Linked DNA regions of Homo sapiens: region 2 is linked to region 1. Evidence: fine-mapped expression QTL. A gene starts in region 1. The other region holds a variant in brackets. All regions are shown on one strand. Distances are between the middles of the regions. Region 1 holds the start of ZNF575 (zinc finger protein 575). Region 2 overlaps XRCC1 (X-ray repair cross complementing 1).

Region 1 (5,365 bases):
ATGTATGTATTTTCAATTTCTTAGATACCGTCATATGGCCAAAGTGGAGACACCAGTTTAAACTTTTAACAAGAGAGCCTGTTTGCCCACAATCCTCATCAACCCACGATAGTAGCAGACTTTTTACCTTTGCCATGTAAGTGTGTGGGGAGAAGCAGAGCCAGCGCTGTCAAACCACAGCTCCACGTCCATGGTTTGAGATCTCCCCAAAGCAGGGGAGCAAAGAGTTCCTCGGGCTTCTGAGCTCGAGCCCAGTATAAATGGCCAATCCCTTGCCCTGCCCTCTGCCAGCTATCTGGAAGAGGCGAGCTCATACAGTCGGTCTTAGAAATCCCACCTCTTACTGGCTAGGGCTGGCGGCAGAAGGGGACAGTGAGCCAAGGGAGGGCTCAGTCTCTCTCCCCCTTGTGCTCCACCTGGTGGTGGCTGCGTTGATGAAGGAGCAGTAAGCGTCTCTGGCCAAAGGCCTGGCCGCAGCTGGAGCATCGGTGCCAGGCAGTCGCCTGGCTGCCGGGCGCGGTTGGGGGGTCGTGACATAGGCGATGGGCGGCCAGCTTGGAGGGAAATGAGAAAGCCTTGGGGCAATGCGGGCAAGGATAGGGGCGGGCGTCGGTGGCGTGGTGCGTGTGGCGGTGGGCCGCCAGCTTGGAAGGGTAGCAGAAGGACTTGGGGCAGTCGGGGCACGGGTAGGGGCGGGTGGGTGCGTGGGTCCAGAGGTGAGCCGCCAGCTTGGAGCGGTGGCCAAAGGACTTCGGGCAGTGTGGGCACGGGTGCGGGCGGGCGCCGCTGTGCGTGAGGCGGTGGGCTGCCAGCTTGGAGGGGTAGGAGAAGGCCTTGGGGCAGTCTGGGCATGGGTGGGGTCGGGCGCCTCCGTGTGCTAAGCGGTGCGTGGCCAGCTTGGACGGGTACGAGAAGGCCTTGTCACAGTCGGGGCAGCGGTGCGGGCGCTGGGGCGGGGGCCGCCGGCGAGGCCGGGGAGGCGAGCCCGCGGACGCGGTGGGCCCTGGAGCTGACTGGCTGGGCTTCTGCGGTGGGCCCTGGTGGGGAGCTGGGGGACAGGAGGGCTGGTGGGCTCCAGGAAGCAGCCAACGCCCTGGGCCTAGGCCAGGCTCCGCCACGACTTTGATATTCGTGGGGCTCCTCCAAGTGTACCTGGGCACCTCAAGCATCACATTGAGACTCCCCAAATTGCATGTTTCTGCTCCCCCCTCCCCCCAGGCGTCATTCTGAGGGACTCCAAAGGGTTACTTTCCTGGATCCCCAAAGCTACTAAGGCTTCCTCAAAGCTACCAAGGTATCCGTTTCTAGTATCTTCCCAGTGATCACCCTGACATCCCGCATGTCATCCCTGACCCGTCCCTTCTGTAAGGCTCATTTCCTGAGCCTTAGCAAATGGTCACTGAGGCTCTCTCTGAGCCAAATGGGAGGATTTCCCAGAATGTGGCAGTTTTGGGGATCCCAAATAGTCATCACCCTAGGGCCCTCAAATTTTCACCCTGAGATTCCCCCAGAATGTGATTATTTTGGCCCCCGTTCCTGGAGAATGCTCCCTACTCACAGGCGGGGCACTCTCACCTTCTTTGGTCACTGGTTCCTTGCCAGTGGGACTAGGATCGGTAGCCCCGGCCGCGGACTCCGCGCCTCGCTCCAGCATCTTGCTGGCACAGGAACCTAGGGGCAGGGCGCGGGGCGGGGGTGACGCCGGTGATGACCAGGCTGATGGGGATAGGGTTGGAGGGCCTAAAATGAGGGATCACACTGTTTAGGAGCAAGGTCTGCAAGTATGGGATGCTAAGGCGGGGGCAGGCTTAGCGGGGAGGCGGAGCCTAAGAGCACAGTGAGCGGGGCTATGCAAATTCAAGCCAGAGGCAGTCCCTTCGCTATCTAAACCCAGGGTTGGAGTCTTTCAGCAGAGTGGGCGGAGTCTCCACAACTAACTCAGCGGCCGTCTTAAGCGCGGAGCCGGCGGGGCCTATGCGCAGAGTGGGCGGGACCTTCCCCACCAGACCCTGCAGTCCTGGAATGGGCGGGGCTGTACAAAAAAAGTCTTGTTCTGAAACTAGACCCAGGGGGCGGGGGCCTTCGAGCGGAGTGGGCAGGTCTTTCATCACCGTCCCAGGGGAGGGGCCTATGGGCACAGTGGGCGGGGCTTCACGTCGAAGACCTAGCTTTACCCGGCTTTTGACTTAGTCTCAGTTCATTGACGCCGCGTCAACTGCGCCCTTCTTGCCGTTAAATTTCATCCCTGGCTTGGATGGGGCCGTGGAGGATAGAGGGGGGACCTGGAGGAAGATACGGAAGGAACCTGGCATGCGTCGCGGTCCAGAGACCCCTAATGGACTTTTCCCTCAGAGTCCCAAGCGTAAAGGATTCAATGCACCCCTCGGAATCAGACATTCAGGCACCGATGCACCCTCCCGAGGCTCTGGCACCAATGCACAGTCCCTCCAGCATCTCCAGAATCTAGGCGTCCGGACCACAACCGATCTCCCTCGGGGTGATTCTGGCATTCAGCCTGCAAGCCAATATCCGCGCCCGAACCCCTGCGCCCTCACCTGCAGGACGGCCCCTCCCCGGGGGCGGGGCTTCCGGCTCCTCCCGCCACGGCCACGGCCGCAGCCGCTGTCGCCGCTGCTGCACTGCCCTCGGACCAGCGGAGCTGCCCCGCCCGGCGCGCGTCCGGCGTCGGGGGAGGGCAGGCAAGGGAGCGCGCGCAAGCTGCTTAGCCCAACCTCATTTCCATCCCCTCCTCCCACGCTGGACCAAAGGGGGCGTCAGAAAGCATGCGCAGTGCGGGCTGGCAGAGGCTGCAGAGAGGGGGAAGAAGGAATGGAAGGAGGGGCTGGGTGCGCCAGCCAGGCAGGCAAGTTCGTGAGCAAGCGCGAAGCTACCGTATCGACAGAAAGTGCACCGCCGGTGGCGGGGCCTACGGTGGCTGACTGGAGTCAAGCATGTACAAGACTAACATGGACAAACTGCGCTTGGAAATCAGTGCATGCACCCGTCTTTTTAATGTCCCTCTTCTTTTCGAGAATTCCGCTGAGTTCCATCTCCAGAGGCAGTTTCAAGAGCTCGCTGCTAATTCTACCCTTCAAGGCGTTTGCAAAAAGTCTGGCCAGTTCTTCGAGAGAGGGCGGGGGCGGGACTCCGGGCTCAAAGAGAGCCAGTGCCCAATAAAAGGCACGTTATTTGCACAGCGCCTTGGCACACCTCGCTATTGGGTGATTCAAGATTCTCAGCCACGCACCCATCTACCTTCCCCCTCGGAAGCCTGGGTGGTCCCGAGGTGCCCTGGCCCATGCTCTTGGTGCCAGGCCTGGGGTGGCATGCAGCTTAGCATTCTTCCCGAGCAGTGGCGGTGCACCTTCCTGCCTGGTGCAGAAAGGACCAGGAAATGCCCATAAAAGTCCTCTGCATGGGTGGGTCTCAGTCCGATAACCCGCAAGGTCTGGCGATCCCTGGGAGTTTGGCGGGGTTATTTGGACTCTGGAGCCAGATTGCCTGGGTAACTGGTTTGGAATACGGCTGTGCCACTTTCTAGCCGTGTGACCCTTTCTAGCTCTCTTTCTAGGCCTGTTTCCTCATCTATAAAATGGAGCGTTTTTAGGATTAAATATGATAATCAATGGAAAGTGTTTAGACTAGAAAGTGCCTAGGCCGGGCTCCCTGTCTCATGCCTGTAATCCCAGCACTCTGGGAGGCAGAGGCGGGCGAATCACTTGAGCCCAGGATTTCCAAACTAGACGGGGGCTAGGCACGGTGGCTCACGCCTGTAATCCCAGCACTTTGGGAGGCGGAGGTGGACGGATCACCTGACGTCAGGAGTTCGAGACCAGCCTGGCCAACATGGTGAAAACCCGTCTCTACTAAAAATACAAAAATTAGTCAGGCATGGTGGCACACGCTTGTAATCTCAGCTACTCCGGAGGCTGAGGTGGGAGGATGGCTTGAACCTGGGAGGCAGAGGTTGCAGTGAGCCAAGATCAAGCCACTGCACTCCAGCCTGGGCAACAGAGTGAGACTCCGTCTCAAAAAAACAAAAAAACCAAAAACCCAAACAAACAAAAATCCCAGCCTAGGCAACATAGTGAGACACCTCCCCATCTTAAAAAAAAAAAAAAAAAAAAAAAAAAAGTCTGGCTTAATGGCAGCCTGTAGTCCCAGCTATTTCACGGGGGTAGGGAGTGGGGACTCACCCAGGAGTTCATGTCTGCAATGAGCTATGATTGTGTTACTGCATTCCAGCCTGCGCAACAGAGTGATACCCCGTATCTTTAAAAAAAAAGTTTTTAAAATAATTATTCACTCATGACCAGTATTGTTTGATTTACCCCCCATCCACTCTTCCCAAATGATTCTGAAGCTAAATGTCAAACATCATATCTCATAAATATCTTTTTATTACACTTGATTTGCTTGACTTAAGATCTAAATGAGCTCCACACATTGTATTAGTTTGAAGTGACACTTCGGTCTCTCTCTCTCTCTTTTTTTTGAGATGGAATCTCGCTGTGTCCCCCAGGCTGGAGTGCAGTGGCGCAATCTTGGCTCACTGCAACCTCTGCCTCCCGAGTTCAAGCGATTCTCCTGCTTCAGCCTCCCAAGTAGCTGGGATTACAGGTGTTCACCACAACACCCAGCTAATTTTTGTATTTTTAGTAGAGACAGGGTTTCACCATGTTGGCCAGGCTGGTCTCGATCTCCTGACCTCGTGATCCACCCGTCTTGGCCTCCCAAAGTGCTGGGATTACAGGGGTGAGCCACTGTGCCCACCTCTTTCTTTTTTTGCACGGAGTCTTGCTCTGTCACCCAAGCTGGTGTGCAGTGGCGAGATATCAGCCCACTGTAACCTCCACCTCCCAGGTTCAAGTGATTCTCCTGCTTCAACGTCCTGAGTAGCTGGGATTACAGGTGCCCGTCACCACGCCTGGCTAATTTTTTTTTTTTTTTTTGTATTTTTGGTAAAGATGGAGTTTCACCATGTTGGCCAGGCTGGTCTCAAACTCCTGACCTCAGGTGATCCGCCCACTTCGGCCTCCCATGGTGCTGGGATTTCAGGTGTGAGCCACCGCGCCCAACCTCTAGGGCCACAGCTATTTTCAAGAACCATGATTTTAAGAAGGCAGAGTAGAAGCCAGAAGACCAGTGAGGGTATTGTTATATATTAATTACAGTATTAATTGCTAGCACTTATTATACACTGGAAACTGTCCTTATGTGCATTAATTTATTTAATCCCCATAGCAATGTTTTAAGAGGAGGTGCTACTATCATCCTTGTACAGAGGAGGAAAATGAAGTGTGGAGGGGAAGGTCATCCCAGCCAGGAAGTATCAGAGCCAGGATTTGAATCCCTCAGCCTGGCC
Region 2 (5,365 bases), 31 kb before region 1:
TTTATTGGGTTGTTACCATGTATATATAAACCTTTTTTTTTTTTTTTTTTTGAGATTGAGTCTTGCTCTGTTGCCCAGGCTGGAATGCAGTGGTGCAATCTCGGCTCACTGCAACCTCTGCTTCCCAGGTTCAAGTGATTCTCGTGCCTCAGTCTCCTGAGTAGCTGGGACTACAGGCGCATGCCACCATGCCCAACTAATTTTTCTGTTTTTAGTAGAGACGGGGTTTCGCCGTGTTGCCCAGGTTGGTCTTGAACTCCTGGGCTCAAGAAATCCACCTGCCTTGGCCTCCCAAAGTGTTGGGATTACAGGCGTGAGCCACCACCCCAGCCTCCATGTATAAACATTTTTATCAGATTCTTAAAAAGTATTTATTTACTTTTTTTTTTTTTTTTTTTGAGACAGAGTCTTGCTCTGCCACCCAGGCTGGAATGCAGTGGCATGATCTTGGCTCACTGCAACCTCCGCCTCCTGGGTTCAAGCAATTCTCTGCCTCAGCCTCCCGAGTAGCTGGGATTACAGGCGCCTGCCACCATGCCTGGTTAATTTTTGTATTTTTACTAGAGACGGGGTTTCACCCTCTTGGCCAGCCTGGTCTTGAACTCTCCTGACCTTGTGATCTGCCAACCTCTGCCTCCCGAAGTGCTAGGATTACAGGCCTGAGCCACCGTGCCTGGCCACTTTTTTTTTTTTTTAGATGGAGTCTCACTCTGTCACCCAGGCTGGAGTGCAGTGGCATGATTTCGGTTCGCTGCAACTTCTGCCTCCCAGGTTCAAGTGATTCTCTGGCCTCAGCCTCCTGTGTAGCTGGGATTACAGGTGCACGCCACCAAGTCTGGCTAATTTTTATATTTTTAGTAGAGACAGGGTTTCACCATATTGGTCATGCTGGTCTTGAACTCCTGGCCTCAAGTGATCTGCCTGCCTTGGCCTCCCAAAGTGCTGAGATTACAGGTGTGAGCCACTGTGCCCAGCCTGTTGTTTTCTCTCTTGAGACAGAGTCTCACTTTATCACCCAGGCTGGGGTGTAGTGGCTCGTCTCAACTCACTGCAACCTCCACCTCCCAGGTTCAAGTAATTCTTGTGCCTTAGCCTCCTGAGTAGCTGGGATTATTGAGGTGCGTGTCACCACACCCAGCTAACTTTTTTTATTTTTGGTAGAGACAGGGTTTTGCTATGTTGGCCAGGCTGGTCTCGAACTCCTGGCCTCAAGTGATTCTCCCGCCTCCACCTCCCACGGTGCTGGGATTACAGGCGTGAGCCAGTGCTCCTAGCCAGGACTTTTTTTATATACAAAGAAGAAATGTCAGGGAGTGCCTGTTTAAAGTAGAAATAGTTATATATGCAGTAGGAATTGTTCATTTAAAATACAAGCATCTCCATCCTACCACATTTAGGAGCTATGCTGAATATTGTGGGAGAGGTAAAGATGTTGAGTTTGACTCAGGGATGGAAAGAAAGGAGTTGAGAACAGTGGTGGTATTGGACAGTGCTTTGCAGTCAGGCAGTTGCGTCCGAAGTACTCTGCTAGTTATTAGCTTGTGTGCCATGTAAGCTATTGATTAAACCTGTCTGAGCCTCAGTTTCCCCATCTGTGAAACTGGAGTCGTAACAGACCCTTCTATTTAAAGTGGTTTTGAGGCTTCAGTGATGCCCGGCCCATGCTTAGCCAAGTGTGGTGGACAGAACAGTGGTGCTCAAAAGATGTTCATGTCCTCATCCCCAGAACCTGGAAATATTTTAATGGCCAAAGGAGCTCTGTGGGTTTGATTAAATTAAGGATCTTGAGATGGGGAGAGTGCCCTGGATTATCTGGTGGGCCTCACGTAACCCCCAGAGGCCTTATAAGGGAAAGAGGGAGGCAAGAGAGCTGGAACCAGAGCTGTGAAGATGCAAGCAGAGCCTGGAGTGATGCCAGCGCTTTCAGCAGCTTTGAAGACGAGGAAGGGACTGTGAGCCAAGGAAGGCAGGTGGCCTCGAGAAGCCGAAGATGCAAGGAGACACGTTCTCCTCTAGTGCTCCCGGAAGGAAGGAATGCAGCCCTGCCGCATCTAGATTTTAGCCCTGTAAGGCCGAGTTTCAGACTTTTGACCTCCAGATCTGTAAGATATTAAATTTGTGTGTTTTTTTTTTGTTTTTTTGAGACGGAGTTTCGCTCTTCTTGCCCAGGCTGGAGTGCAGTGGTGTGATCTCGGCTCACTGCAACCTCCGCCCCCCCGGTTTAAGCAATTCTCCTGCCTCAGCCTCCTGAGTAGCTGGGATTACAGGCATGCGCCACCACGCCTGGCTAATTTTGTATTTTTAGTAGAGACGGAGTTTCTGCATTTTGGTCAGGCTGGTCTCGAACTCCCTACCTCAGGTGATCCGCCTGCCTCAGTCTCCCAAAGTTCTGGGATTACAGGCGTGAGCCACTGCGCCTGGCCAAATTTGTGTTTTTAGCCACAAAGTTTGTGCTAATTTGTACAACAGTAACAGGAAACTCATACACCAAGCACCTGGCACATGGTGAGAATCCGAAAATGTTAGCCATGATGATCCTCTTGTGACAGATGGGACACCCAGGCAAGCAGCAGAGAAGGGGCTCAACAGGGCCACTTGGTAAGGGAGGACAGAGCCAGAGTTACTGCTTAATAACTCTTGAGTAGTAACTTCTGCAAACGGTTGCTGGGCGCCTGTTCTGCGTCTGTCTGTACATCCATTGGGAATGCAGTAGAGGCCTGCTGTGTTAATGATATTCGCAGCTGACATTTATGTAGTGTTTGCTCGGTGCCAGGCAGTATTCCAGGCACTTGGTATGTTATTTCTCATTCTTGGTATGGATTTGAATGTTCTCAACAACTTTATGAGATAGACGTTGTTATTGTCCCCATTTCATAGGTTCGAAAACT[G/A]AGGCACAAGGGGTGAAATGAAACCATTTGCTCCAGGATCACACAGCAGGAAATCAGCAGAGCTGGGAAGGACCAGACACTGTTCTTGGCCTTGGGGACACAGTAGGGAACAACTCAGACGATACTGTCCTTGCTCTTGTGGAGCTTAAAAGTCTGGCGGGAGAGACAGATGCTAGACAAATACAAACAAAAAAGATGTAACTGTGTAACACCAGGCAGTAATCATGAAGAAAAGTAAAGTCGGGTAGGGAGATAGAGAGTGGCACCAGGTAGGGGGCGAGGTAGGTTACTTATGGTCTGAAGTGACATCTGAGTGGGCACCTGAAGCACAGAAGGCAAACTTTTACCCAGCTATGGATATGTTTGAGGGAAGAGTGGTCTAGGCAGGGGGATTGGCAGGTGCAGAGGCCCTGAGGTGGGAAGGAGCCAGACTGTTCTTGGCACAGAAGGGAGGCCGTTGTGGCTGGTGGAAAGTCACCAAGCCTGGCCTGGGGAGCAGTCAGACTGGGACTTCTTGTTATTGTTGTTTTTGTTGTTGTTGTTGTTTTTGAGACAGAGTCTCACTCCATCGCCCAAGCTGGAGTGCAGTGGCACAATCTCGGCTCACTGCAACCTCTGCCTCCCGGGTTCAAGTGATTCTCCTGCCTCAGCCTCCCCAGTATCTGGGATTACAGGCGCTCACCACCATGCCCGGCTAATTTTAATTTTCATATTTTTAGTAGAGACAGGGTTTCACCATGTTGGCCAGGCTAGTCTCAAACTCCTGACCTCAAGCGATTCACCTGTCTCAGCCTCCCAAAGTGCTGGTATTACGGGTGTGAGCCACCACACCTGGCCCAGACTGGGACATCTCATGAGCCCAGGCAGCACTGTACACTGCCCAGGGCCCAGGGCTGGGAATGGCGGTGGAGGCAGGGGAGTCAGCAGGAGGTCTGCCGGCCTCAGCCTTAGGCAGGCCCTTCCTCCAGCACCATCTTCCTCCTCTAGCACGTCAGTGGTGTGATGGAGGAGCACGCGTGGACTGTTGCCAGCCTGCCTGGGTTCCGGTCCGGCTTTGCCACCCACCAGCTGTGAAGTTACATAACCACTTCCTGCCTCCGTTTGCTCATGTGTAAGATGGAGATAATTATAGCAACTGCCTGGCAGAGCCATTGCAGGAGAGTAGATACATGTATTATTAGCAGGAGTCTGGCACACCAGGAGCGCTCAGTGCACTCGGATGTTGGCCGCAGTTGTGGTTATAGTTGTTAATTCTGTGTCATCTCAACTTCCTTCAGAGGGAGGGTAAGTTTTTTTTTGAAGACAAGGTCTCATCACTCTGTCGCCCAGAGTACAGTGATGCGAACATGACTCACTGCAGCCTTGACCTCCCCAGGCTCACGCGATCCTCCTTCCTCAGCCTCCTGAGTAGCTGGGACCACAGGTATGTGCCACCATGCCTTGCTAATTTTTGTAATTTTTGTAGAGACAAGGTCTGGCTATGTTGCCCAGGCTGGTCTTGAACTCCCAGCCTCAAGTGATCCTCCCACCCCAGCCTCCCAAAGTGCTGGTTATAGAGACGTGAGCCACTGCGCCTGGCCAAGGAGGGAGGGTTGTTAATGACCATCTTCCCTTTTTGCATGTGAGGAAACTGCCTCACAGAGACGTTGAATACGTCACCCAAGGTTGTGCAGGTTGGAAATGGCATTGCTGTATTTGAGCCCAGGCCTACCTCACCCCAAGTCCAGGCTCCCTCCTTCCATACAGTGGTGTTCCTGTTGATAGCAGTGTGCAGGTGATGTCTAGATGATCTGACAGGGAGGCAACAGAGCAGATTGGAGCATCTGTCATCACCAGGGGTGGGAGAGGGCAGTGTAGGGTGGACTAGGTACCTTGGTTTTTTTTTTTTTTTTTTTTGTGACAGAGTCTCGCTCTGTCACCCAGGCTGGAGTGCAGTGGCATGATCTCTGCTTACTGAAACCTCTGCCTCCTAGGTTCAAGAGATTCTTGTGCCTCAGCCTCTTGAAGAGCTGGGACTACAGGCATGTGTCACCATGCCCGGCTATATTTTATATTTTTAGTAGAGAAGGGGTTTTGCCATGTTGGCCAGGCTGGCCTCAAGTGGTCCACTGCCTTGGCCTCGCAGAGTGCTGGATTTACAGGCTTGAGCCACTGCACCTGGCCCAGGTACCTTTGAGAGTTGTAATAATGCGTCATTCTAGGATCCTAATAAAAGAGCCCCAAACTGGAAGGCAGGACACTTGCCTCAACCTAACTGCCTCCCGTGCCCGCATGGCCCGCACGGCTTTCTGCATCTTCATCTGTCAGACAGGAATGGCAGATCCTTTGAGATGAGCCCTCCTATAGGTAGCTCTTTTCTTCTTTCAACAAATAGTTGTCTAGCACTGACTAATAATACCTCCTGACTGACAGCAGATAATTGCCTACTCTTCGCCATGCCCTGTGGCCATTATTTATGTGCATGATCCTAGATATGG

The links. PIP is the estimated chance that this variant, and not a neighbour inherited with it, causes the effect.
Region 2: its variant is fine-mapped to the expression of ZNF575 in whole blood (INTERVAL, PIP above 0.99).

The regions. Positions count from the first base shown.
Region 1 is chr19:43,530,712-43,536,076 of GRCh38, reverse strand. It overlaps ZNF575 (zinc finger protein 575), which reads right to left and starts at 2,889. Exons shown (of 4, transcript NM_174945.3): 1 at 2,556-2,889; 2 at 2,175-2,282; 3 at 1,576-1,740; 4 at 1-1,048. The coding sequence starts at 1,654. The coding sequence ends at 390. RefSeq lists silencers at 2,474-2,783, 4,751-4,922.
Region 2 is chr19:43,561,565-43,566,929 of GRCh38, reverse strand. The region is part of intron 2 of XRCC1 (X-ray repair cross complementing 1); the gene reads left to right. Among named protein-coding and RNA genes, the nearest start is that of XRCC1, 11 kb to the left of the region's middle. RefSeq lists an enhancer at 3,345-3,845. The variant G/A (reference allele first, on the strand shown) is at 2,889.